2 separate regions of the Homo sapiens genome follow, and region 2 is linked to region 1. Evidence: fine-mapped expression QTL. A gene starts in region 1. The other region holds a variant in brackets. All regions are shown on one strand. Distances are between the middles of the regions.

Region 1 (5,392 bases):
TATTTTTATTTTATTTTGGCTCCTTGCAGGAAACAAGATTTTTTTTTTTTTTTTAAGCAAACCTGCAGATCCTGAGGGTTAAACCCTCCTTATGCCTTTGAGTAGTTGTCAGGTGATTTGGGGCGGCTTGCATGTGTTTCTGGAGAGGGTAAAGCTAAACTAGTGATAACTACATTCCAAGTGTAATCCCAATCTCTTGACATTACAGAAGAAACCACTAATTTTCAGAAGCGTCTGAAGTCTGGGAATTTGTCAATGCACTGGGCACAGTAGTCCTTGGTGCAGCTTAGACATGCTTAAATGAGGCAAACCAGACTAACCCATCAATTCGGTCAAATAAGAAGTAGAATTTTTCTTCTAAGTTACTTTGAAATTGACCAATTCAACAAAATGACAACATTGGAGAGCTCTTTTGGTGATACGTTAACATTTCGCTATTGTATTTAACATTTTAAATATTGTAGAGCTAATTCATAATCTGAGATGTACAAAATAAATGCTTATCCCATAAACCTAATATCAACACATGATATACTACAAATAATTTGATTCCAAATGAATTAAGAAAAAAGGTTTTCAAGTTTCAGATTCTTTTACCAAAAATATCCTGGGAATTTGAGATTGTGCCTATGCAGCCTCAAACGGATGAATAAAAAGTAATGTAGGCCGGGCACCCGGTGGCTCACACCTATAATCCTAGCACTTTGGGAGGCTGAGGCGGTTGGATCACCTGAGGTCAGAAGCTCAAGGCCAGCCTGGCCAACATGGTGAAGCCCCATCTCTACTAAAAATACAAAAATTAGCCAGGCATAGTGGTGCATGCCTGTAATCCCAGCTACCCAGGAGGCTGAGGCAGGAGAATCGCTCGAACCCGGGAGGCGGAGGTTGCAGTGAGCTGAGATCACGCCACTGCACTCCAGCCTGGGTGACAAGAGCAAAACTCCATCTCAAAAGAAAAAAAAAGTAAAGTAAAGTTTTGTTTTTTTCCCCTTTGGGTGGTGAGATTAAAAGTAATTTAAAAGTTTTAAATACTTTAATATATTTTCACATGTCCTACAATAAATATATAACTTTTTTAATTTGACAAAAAATAATTTTGAGTGGTTACAAAAAGGGACAGGTGTGGCTTGGTAACTAGAAAAACATTCCCAGCCTGGGAAACAATCTAGTGAGAGCTTGGAGGCAGAAGACAGAACTCTGATTACATTCAAGGAGTTTGCCAGATGGCAACAGATAACTGCCAATGTTCGGTTGCACTATAATTATTATACACTCTCTGTCACTTCAGCAAGCGCTCTTTTCACAAGACAAGTGGTGACAGAATGTTGTATTAAGATTACCCGTTGCTAAGCTTATGTTAAAATGAGGAAATGAAATGGAAAGTCTTGTTTTGGTAATGTCTCTGGGGTATGAGGAATGGAGGGAAAGGTTTGACTATGAGCATAACTGCATAGAGAATTTTGTTTGTTTATGCCTTTTGGGAATGCATTATTTTGATTGACCCTAATTGGGAATTCAGAGGGGGAGATTTCCTCTATTATCTATAAAGAAAGGATCTGCTGAGCAAACACAATTGCTAGGGTCATGTTTAAAGTACTTAATTGATCTGCTTTCAAGTCTAATTTAACACTTCAGGGGCTCCAAACATGTGATACATTGGTTACAAACTCATCTTAGTCTAATTTTAGTTAGTGTTCATATTAGAAAGTTATATAATACTTTTCTTTCTTTCAGATATATTCTATAATTCACATTTTTCACTAATTTTACCCAGTTCTCCTTCCACTCCCAATCTATCCAAATAACTGAGTTGAACTGTGTGAGTTTACTGCTCTATTAATTTATTGCCAGAGATATACAAACCATGACTTCCTCGGCTGTTTCAGATGAAACTGTAGATCCACGTGTAAACTTGCAATGCACAGCTTAGCTGGAAAGTTACGTGGAGCAGGTGACGGAGGGGATAGCTTTCACTGCTTGGACTAAAGTCAGTTTTGAAAGAGCTAAAGATGCCTATTGAATTCTGGAGTGTGTGTGTGTGTGTATGGGTGTGCATATGTGTGGGTGTAAGGCAGCAAACTCTTCACATTTCAAATAACTAAAGATATGGGTGGTAAAATGAAGTCACATTTTTACACCTCACAGGCTGACTAGGGAGAGCAGTCAAATGCAGCATCGATTGGTTAAAATTAGTCTATCATTCTTGGTTTATGATGTTTTAAAGACATGTTAAAGTTATTCATGAAGATGTAAAAGACACATTTAAAACCCACATCAATTGCACTAAAAGTCAACTGGAAACAGAAGGTTTTTAAATCCTGGTGGTGGCAAATTGGCAGCCAAAGGAACAAAGTCTTAGTCAACATATTTCCATGTCCCCCGAACACAAATAGCCTCGAACCTTCGGAGGGTGTTCCTTTGAGATGTTTCATCAGTGACATCACAGTGATTGCCAGCTTCCACGGACTACTTTAGGCGCTGCCCAGAGTCCAGGAGTCCAGACAGCCTGGGAGGGGAGAAGGAGTTGGAGCTCAAGTTGGAGACAGCGAGGAGAAACCTGCCATAGCCAGGGTGTGTCTTTGATCCTCTTCAGGTAACTGCAGGATTTTTATGCTTAGCATACGGTGTGTGTGTGTGTACAAGCTGCAAATGAGAAAGGCAGAGGAATGTTTGCATTTCTTAATGAAATAGGCAATGCCCCTTGGATACAGCATGCCTTAAGATATAAAGTGAGTACTATTGCTTTCTGTTTTCCTTTTTTTTTCTCCTAAGGGTATGCATTTTCTCCCTTCCTAGTAAAAAAAAATTTTTTTTCTTTCTTGTATTATGGAAGATGGTCTTTTTTCTATCTTCTCTAAGTCTCCATTCAAAGAAAGCCAATGTCAAACTTCCTGCACAATTTATTCAGAGCTTTTTGGGTTTTAGTTCATCCATTTGCAATCACTGGATCATATGGCATGACCTTGACTTCAGGGAATGTTTAAAATGAAACCCAAAGTGTCTTTATTGGTTAAAAGCAGAAAAATGGAACTTGGCTGATCTGAATTTCTGCCTAACTGGTTCATTCTTCCTAAAGTGTATAAATGTGTGTGAAAGGAATGTTCACACCACACCTTACAGTTAGCATATGTGTTGATTGAATTGAATTCACTAGAAATTCTCACCTTAACTCTTCATGTTTTATTCATCTAAAATCACATAAAACAACAAATATTCAAGGTCACCATTAAAGTGCAAGAAGTAGTAAGAGGTAAATCCCAAGAAAGAAAGAAGTGTGATGGGTAGCCTGCTAATTCAGAAATGACTGAAAAAAAAAAAGTTAAGAGTGCATAAACATACACAGTTTAAACAATAACTGAAAGGCAACACTTCTATAATTATCATCCAGGTCAAGAAACAGATCATTGCCAGCACCCAGAAGCCCATTCTTGATCAACCCCCATTCTGCCCCAAGATGTTGGGATCCTCTTGTCCCTGTTATTCTTTATAATTTGACCATCTATGTCTGCATGCCTAAACAATATGATTAACCTCCCTATTTTTGACATCATATAAATGGAGTCATATTCTCTGTTTCTTTTGTAAATTCTTCTTTCACCCAACAATTATATTTGTGAGATCTACCCATTTTCTGTGTAGCTATAGTTCATATATTTTCTTTGCTTTATGAAATTCAAATGTATAACTATACCACAATTTATCATCCATTCTGCTGTTGATAAACATTTGAGTTGTTTCCAGTTTGGAGTTATTGTGATAATATTGCTGTGAACTCTTTATTTATGTAACCTGGCACGCACGTCCTTGACTGTCTTAAGGTAGAAGTGAAATGCCAGATATTAGAGAATGAACATTTTCAACATTAATTCTAAGAAAGCTAAATTGTTTTCCAAAGTGGTTGAAAATTTATGCTAACTTTGTTTAGCCAGGCCAGTTAATTGCAGTGACAATTCACTTGTGTCATAACTCCTAGGAATTCTAGTAACTAGTTCCAGTCTGCTAATTCTAGCTTTGCCTCTAACTTGTTATCTGTCATTACACAAACATCTTAATCTCCTCTCTCTAAAAGTCAGTTTCTCAGCTGTAATCTTGAGAAAGATAAAAACTGCAGTAACACTTGCCTGAGTTGTTGCGAAGGTAACACAAACAGAGCTGTGGAACAGCTTTCAATAGTATTTTTCTCATTTTCTGAGTATATCCTGTTGGATCACTATCCATGATTCCCATGACTTAACAGCTTAATTTAATAGGCAGATTTGGTGGGACCGTTGTTTTGCTCTCCTTGAATTGTTTTGACCATTATAAGCCAGGCTTCATATTTTCTGCTTATCTCTGCATTTCTTGAGAACTTACCCAAATAGATGGACATTTGGACTATGGTTTTATTTCATTGATAAGTTTATAAGAAAGAGTCTGTCTTCGTTTCTCATTCCTTTGCCTCCAGGCACCTTGGCAAGACTCATTACCGTTCTGTTCTCCTCTGCTCTTTTGTACATTCTCATAAATCCTTTTTCCTTGATCCATTCATTTTATTCTGTTTACTTTCTCCTCCATGCAAATCTTTGTAAAGATTTTCTATTTTTTCCCCTTTTTATTTTCTTGGAGAGACAGGGTCTTGCTGTGTTATCCAGGCTGGTCTTGAACTCCTAGGCTCAAGTGATCCTCCCACTCCAGCCTCCCAAAGGGCTGGGATTAGAGGCATGAGCCACCACGCCCAGCCATTTGTAATGGTTTTCATTGGCAATTTACTATTTCCTTCATGCTGAGGTCTAAAAGATGGATAATAATTAAAAGGGAGATGAAATATAAATCTGTCATCATTTGGCTATATATCTACTGGTTGGCACCATCTGATTTGAACTTGTATTTTTTTTTGAGACAGGGTCTCATTATGTTGCCTAAGCTGGTCTTAAACTCCTAGGCTCAAGGGATCCTCCCACCTCAGCTTCCCAATTAGCTAGGACTACAGGTACCGACTGCCATGCCTGGCTGAACCTGTATGTTATGCCAATTACACAATATGAAAAATGATCATTCAGTTGGCATTTATGCAATTAACAATTTGGTCCATTGATAATATAATCAATACAGTAATTACAATTAATAATTCAGTCATGCTAGATAGTTTAAAAATACCACTCAGACCAAAAGCTTGCTAACAACCCTTTCAGCCTCTTGAACTCTCACCTTTAGCAAACACACAAAATACCCTTTCTCCCTAAACTTTCACTCTACAGTAGACTTTGGTCCTAAATGTCTAAAACATAGATATCGAATTATCTAAAATATATAAATCTTTAATTTCATTTAGGCTGCATAAATAATGTGCAATTTACACCATCTCACTGAAGACAATAGTTTGATGACTTCATTGCACATGTTCTCAAAGTAT
Region 2 (5,392 bases), 110 kb before region 1:
TACTTAATTAATTAATTTATTTATTTTGAGACAGAGTATTACTCTATCGCCCAGGCTGGAGTGCAATGATGCAATCTCGGCTCACTGCAACCTGTGCTTCCTGGGTTCAAGTGATTCTCCTCCCTCAGCTTCCTGGATAGTTGGGATTATGGGTGCTCCACCACGCCCAGCTAATTTTTTTTTTTTTTTGAGACAGAGTCTTGCTCTGTCGCCCAGGCTGGAGTGCAGTGTTGCGATCTCGGCTCACTGCAACCACTGCCTCCTGGGTTCTAGTGATTCTCTTGCCTCAGCCTTCCGAGTAGCTGGGATTACAGGTGCATGCCACCATGCCCGGCTGATTTTTGTATTTTTAGTAGAGATGGGGTTTCGCCATGGTGGCCAGGCTGGTCTCGAACTCCTGAGCTCAGGTGATCCTCCCGCCCCGGCCTCCTGAAGTGCTGGGATTACAGGCGTGAGCCACCACATCCAGCCATTTTTGTATTTTTAGTAGAGATGGGGTTTCACCCTTTTGGCCAGGCTAGTCTTGAACACCTGACCTCAAGTGATCCACCCACCTTGGCCTCGCAAAGTGCTGGTATTACAGGTGTGAGCCACCACGCCCAGCTCCTAGTTCTTTTTAGTGGGAGGTAGTATTTAGTTGCCATTATCTAGGCACTAGGGGTGTTCATAATTAATGGATTAGTCATTGTTTCAGAGCTTTTTAGGGGAAAGAGATAGGATATATATATGTATATGTTATGAAATACTCATGACATACTACGAAGTACTCATGAGTCAATTGTACCTTTCAGTAAAGTTCAAAACTATAAGGTTTTTAACTCAACCTCTTCAATCTTACATCTTCATCTTTTTTCTATATATCCCAATGAATACATCAATATTCATATTGTATATGTATGTATATACGATATTCATATATCAATATGTATATACAATATTCATATTGTAGGGGGACATAGCACTGAAAACCAGAAGAGGTTAAAGGGGCTTCCATCAATATAATTTTCTTATTTTCTGTATTCCACAGTATTTGTAAATACTCCCAGAATAATATCAACACCATATCAAAACAGTTTAAGCTATTGTACAGTTCTTTTTGATCCTATGGTATATTTTATTAGGAGTGTACTATCAAATTAGTATATTTTAAAGTCCCTTGAAATAATTCCTGTCAGGTTTTGCTACCAATTTTTAAAACATCAAGTTTATTTTAAATTTTATTTTAGATGTGGCTTTTTTAAATTTAATTTTTGTTTTACATAATTATAAGTTATGTAACATACTTACATGGCCTCAAAGGCAAATCTATAAAACAAGGTATAGTCAGACATACACCTTTTACTTTGCTCCCTCTGCTGTCCTCCCTATACACAACTTTTAAAAAGTTTTGTTTTGGCTGGATGCAGTGGCTGATGTCTGTAATCCCAGCACTTTGGGAGGCCAAGGAGAATGGATCACCTGAGGTCAGGAGTTCGAGACCAGCCTGACCAACATGGAGAAACCCTATCTCTACTAAAAATACAAAATTGGTTGGACGTGGTGGCACATGCCTGTAATCCCAGCTACTTGGGAAGCGGAGGTTGTGGTGAGCCCAGATCGAGCTATTGCACTCCAGCATGGACAACAAGAGCAAAACTGCATCTCAAAAAAAAAAAAAAAGTTTTATCTTTCCTTTTAAAAAATTAACAAATTATAGATAAATATTTGCATTCCATACCCATTTTTCTCCACATTTGCTTCCTTTTTAAAAAAGGTATACCTGGCAGTCACTTTATAACAGTACATATAAATATGTGCCTTGCTTTTTATAGCTGTACAGTAGTACTCCTGTGTGTTTATTCAGCTAGTCTCCCATTGTTAGACATTTTGTTTTTTTCCTTTAGTCTTTTGCTAGTATAAATAGTGCTGTAATGAATAGCTTTGTAAATACACCTTTTTGTATTTTTGCCAGAGTTGCCTTGGGGTAGATTCCTTGAGACAAAATTGCTAGAAATTGTCAAATCAGCACCCCCAAACTCTCCCGCTGAAATAGAGATTTATTATTTTACGCTTTTACCAGCAACAGTCAGAAGTACTGTTAAGTTTTTGAAGTGTCAAAAACAGATCCTGAACAGCCCATGGATTGCATTCACTTCTTCCACGGATTCCTAAAAGTTGAGAGACCTCAGAATCAGAAGCATTGCTGTAGACCCTTGCTCACTCAAAGTCTGGTCCGTGGACCAGCAGCATAAGTATCTCCTGAGAGCTTCTTAGGAATGCGGAATCTCAGGTCGGGCGCGGTGGCTCACGACTGTAATCCCAACAACTTTGGGGGGCCGAGGTGGGCGGATCACGAGGTCAGGAGTTTGAGACCAGCCTGACCAACATGGTGAAACCCGTCTCTACTAAAACTACAAAAATAAGCTGTGTGTGGTGGCAGGCGCCTGTAATCCCAGCTACTGGAGAGGCTGAGGCAGGAGAATCACTTGAACCCAGGAGGTGGAGGTTGCGGTGAGCCGCGATCGTGCCACTGGACTCCAGCCTGGGCAACAGATCGAGACTCCATCTCAAAAAAAAAAGAAAAAAAAAAAAAAAAAGAAAGAAATGCGGAATCTCAGGCCTCTCTCCAAACCTACTGAATCAGAAGCTGCACTTTAACAAGAGCCTTAGATGATTCATATCACATGAAAGTTTGAGAAGCACCAGGCTAGGGCTGTGTTATTCAATACTATAACCCCCAGCCACATGTGGTTATTTAAATGAAAATGAATTAAAATAGA[A/G]TAAAACAAAAAATTCAGTTCCTCATTTATACTAGCCACATTTGAAGTGCTCAAGAACTACTTTTCAAACATTTCCATCGTTGTGGTAACATCTACAGTATTGCACAATGCTGATCCCTGGCTTCACTGTCTAATTTGGTAGCCATTCTCCATATATGGCTATTTTATTTAAGTTGAAACGAAATTACATTAAACATTCAATTCCTCATTCACATTAGCCATGTTTCAAACACTCAATGGCTGCATATAGGTAGAGGCTACTCTATTGGATGGTGCATATATAGAGCCATGTTTCAAACACTCAATGGCTGCATATGGGTAGAGGCTACTCTATTGGATGGTGCATATATAGAATAGACAGGTATGGTCAAGAGGTTACCAAAAGACAGGGCGAGCCAGAGGAAGGAAGGAAATAAAATGCACTCAGTGCCTCAGGTGGGTGGATGTGCTAGGTACTTTTATAGGTTACATCAATTAACCCTTAGGCGCATAAAGGTGGTATTACACTCACTTAAAAAAGACATAAGAGAACTACCTAACACTAATAAAGAGTAGAGTTAGATCTTTGGATTCAAAGACTAGGATTCTTTCTGCTATGTTCAGAAGGAATAATCTTTTCTTGAAGGTCACATCCAAATTGCACTCTCTACTAGCCTTTTCCAGAACAGCACATGGTGTGAACCACTGTTTTCACTTGCCTGTACCTGTTTCTCCTCTCTTTCATGTTTCAAATTTAAATCCAGAACCCAGTTTTATCTAACTCTGGAGTTTGTATTTTTTCCACTGTAACATTCATTGAGTTCACTTTTGAGGGCCTCTTGTCTACAGTATTGTCTGCCTTGCATTTTAACATGATGCCATCTTCATAATAGTGCATTTTTTGTTAATAAACATTTACTGAGCACCTATTCCGAGTAAGACATCATCCAGTGAGCAAAAAGAAAACACTGATTTCCTTTCTTTTACTTGCCTTCTTTGTGAGGTGATCATATACACCAATACACTATCTATTTTTTAAAATTTGACTTTTTTAGCTACTTTGAGTTTTGAATATGACTAACAGAATGTAGGTTCTTCACAATTGCAAGCTACTCATGCTTACTAGAATTAGATGATACATTGATGGCTAAACTTTTGAATCGTAGGACTATGGAGATGGAAAGAAAACAGTTCATCTTGGCTGCTACTCACTATGTAAAGAAAAGCTACTTATAATTTATTTCTTTTCTTTTTTCTTTTTTTTTTTTTTTTTGAGACTGTCTTGTTATGTCGCCCAGGCTAGAATGAAGTGGCATGATCTTGGCTCACTGCAAACTCCGCTTCCTGGGTTCAAGTGATTCTCTTGCCTCAGCCTCCTGAGTAGCTGGGACTATAGGTGCACGCCACCACACCTTACTAATTTTTGTACTTTTAGTAGATATGGGGTTTTGCCATGTTGGCCAGGCTGGTGTCAAACTCCTGGCCTCAAGTGATCTGCCCACCTCTGCTTCCCAAAGTGCTGGAATTACAGGTGTGAGTCACAGTGCCTGACCAAAAACTACTTATAATTTATTTCTAAACATGCTTCCGATATAATTTAAAATGCTTTAGAAATAGAAACTGGGTAGCTTATGTGCAGAGTGCGAGAACTTGGCCTAAATGTATATTTCTTTTTGGGTTCATAATAGGATTTTTATAGACGTACTGGAAGTTATTATTCTTTACCAGGTATTTACAGGTGGCAGATGTAATGGATTTTAAAATCTCCCCCAAGTAACTATGTTCCATAGGAGTCTTAGCACTAATATGAAATCCTGCCTTTAGCTGACAACATGCAACCTAGCAGCACAGATTTATTGAGACATAAAGTGAAGGGAATGCATAATTTGCATTCAAATAATGCATCTTATCGGTCACTTGGAACTCCTTTTTTTCAAATAAAAAGAAAAGAATAATTTAGTGGTTTGCCGTCCTGATCATGTCTTAGACTCATCTGGGAGACTTAAAATAGGCTGATACTTGGAATCTACCCTCTGAGAATCTGATCCAACTGGTTTGGGCTGGGGTCTTGTTGTCAGTGTTATTTTTAAAGCCCAGTGATTTTTAAATATATAATCAGTAGAGGACTGCCTATCTAATTTGAAATAGTAAATAAAGAAGAGCTAAAGAAATGAATGCATCTCATCATTGTGTCTCATATATATATTATATATATGTGTATATGAATGCATCCCATCATTGTGTCTCATATATATATATAATGTAAAACTAGTGTTTAAATTAGGCACAAACTTGTATTATGGCCTTTCCTGCATTCCTCAATCTTCCTAAAATACCTTTCAGGTGTGTGATTGTTTTGACTCCTCTGTGAACCTTCTCCAGGACATCTTGAGCTTTCCTTCTCCTTGGCTGCATGCACAACTCTTATTTTAACCCTTTCTCATTTTATTGTGGTTTTGTGTTGTGAGGTCTGTCTGACTCCTCACACAGAAAACTTCTGAGGTTGTTCAACAATAGCAAATACCCTATTTGCCAGGCACTATTAATCATGGAGAATATAATGTCCCTTTCCTCCTGGAGCTTAGAGTTTTGGGGAAAGAACAGTGTGTGGTGGGTACTGTGATGGAGGGTTGTGGTATTTTGTGGGGGCACAC

The links. PIP is the estimated chance that this variant, and not a neighbour inherited with it, causes the effect.
Region 2: its variant is fine-mapped to the expression of SLN in lung (TOPMed, PIP 0.95).

The regions. Positions count from the first base shown.
Region 1 is chr11:107,709,164-107,714,555 of GRCh38, reverse strand. It overlaps SLN (sarcolipin), which reads left to right and starts at 2,500. Exons shown (of 2, transcript NM_003063.3): 1 at 2,500-2,593.
Region 2 is chr11:107,822,546-107,827,937 of GRCh38, reverse strand. All of the region lies in intron 1 of SLC35F2 (solute carrier family 35 member F2), which reads left to right. Among named protein-coding and RNA genes, the nearest start is that of SLC35F2, 34 kb to the left of the region's middle. RefSeq lists an enhancer at 1,972-2,471. The variant A/G (reference allele first, on the strand shown) is at 2,760.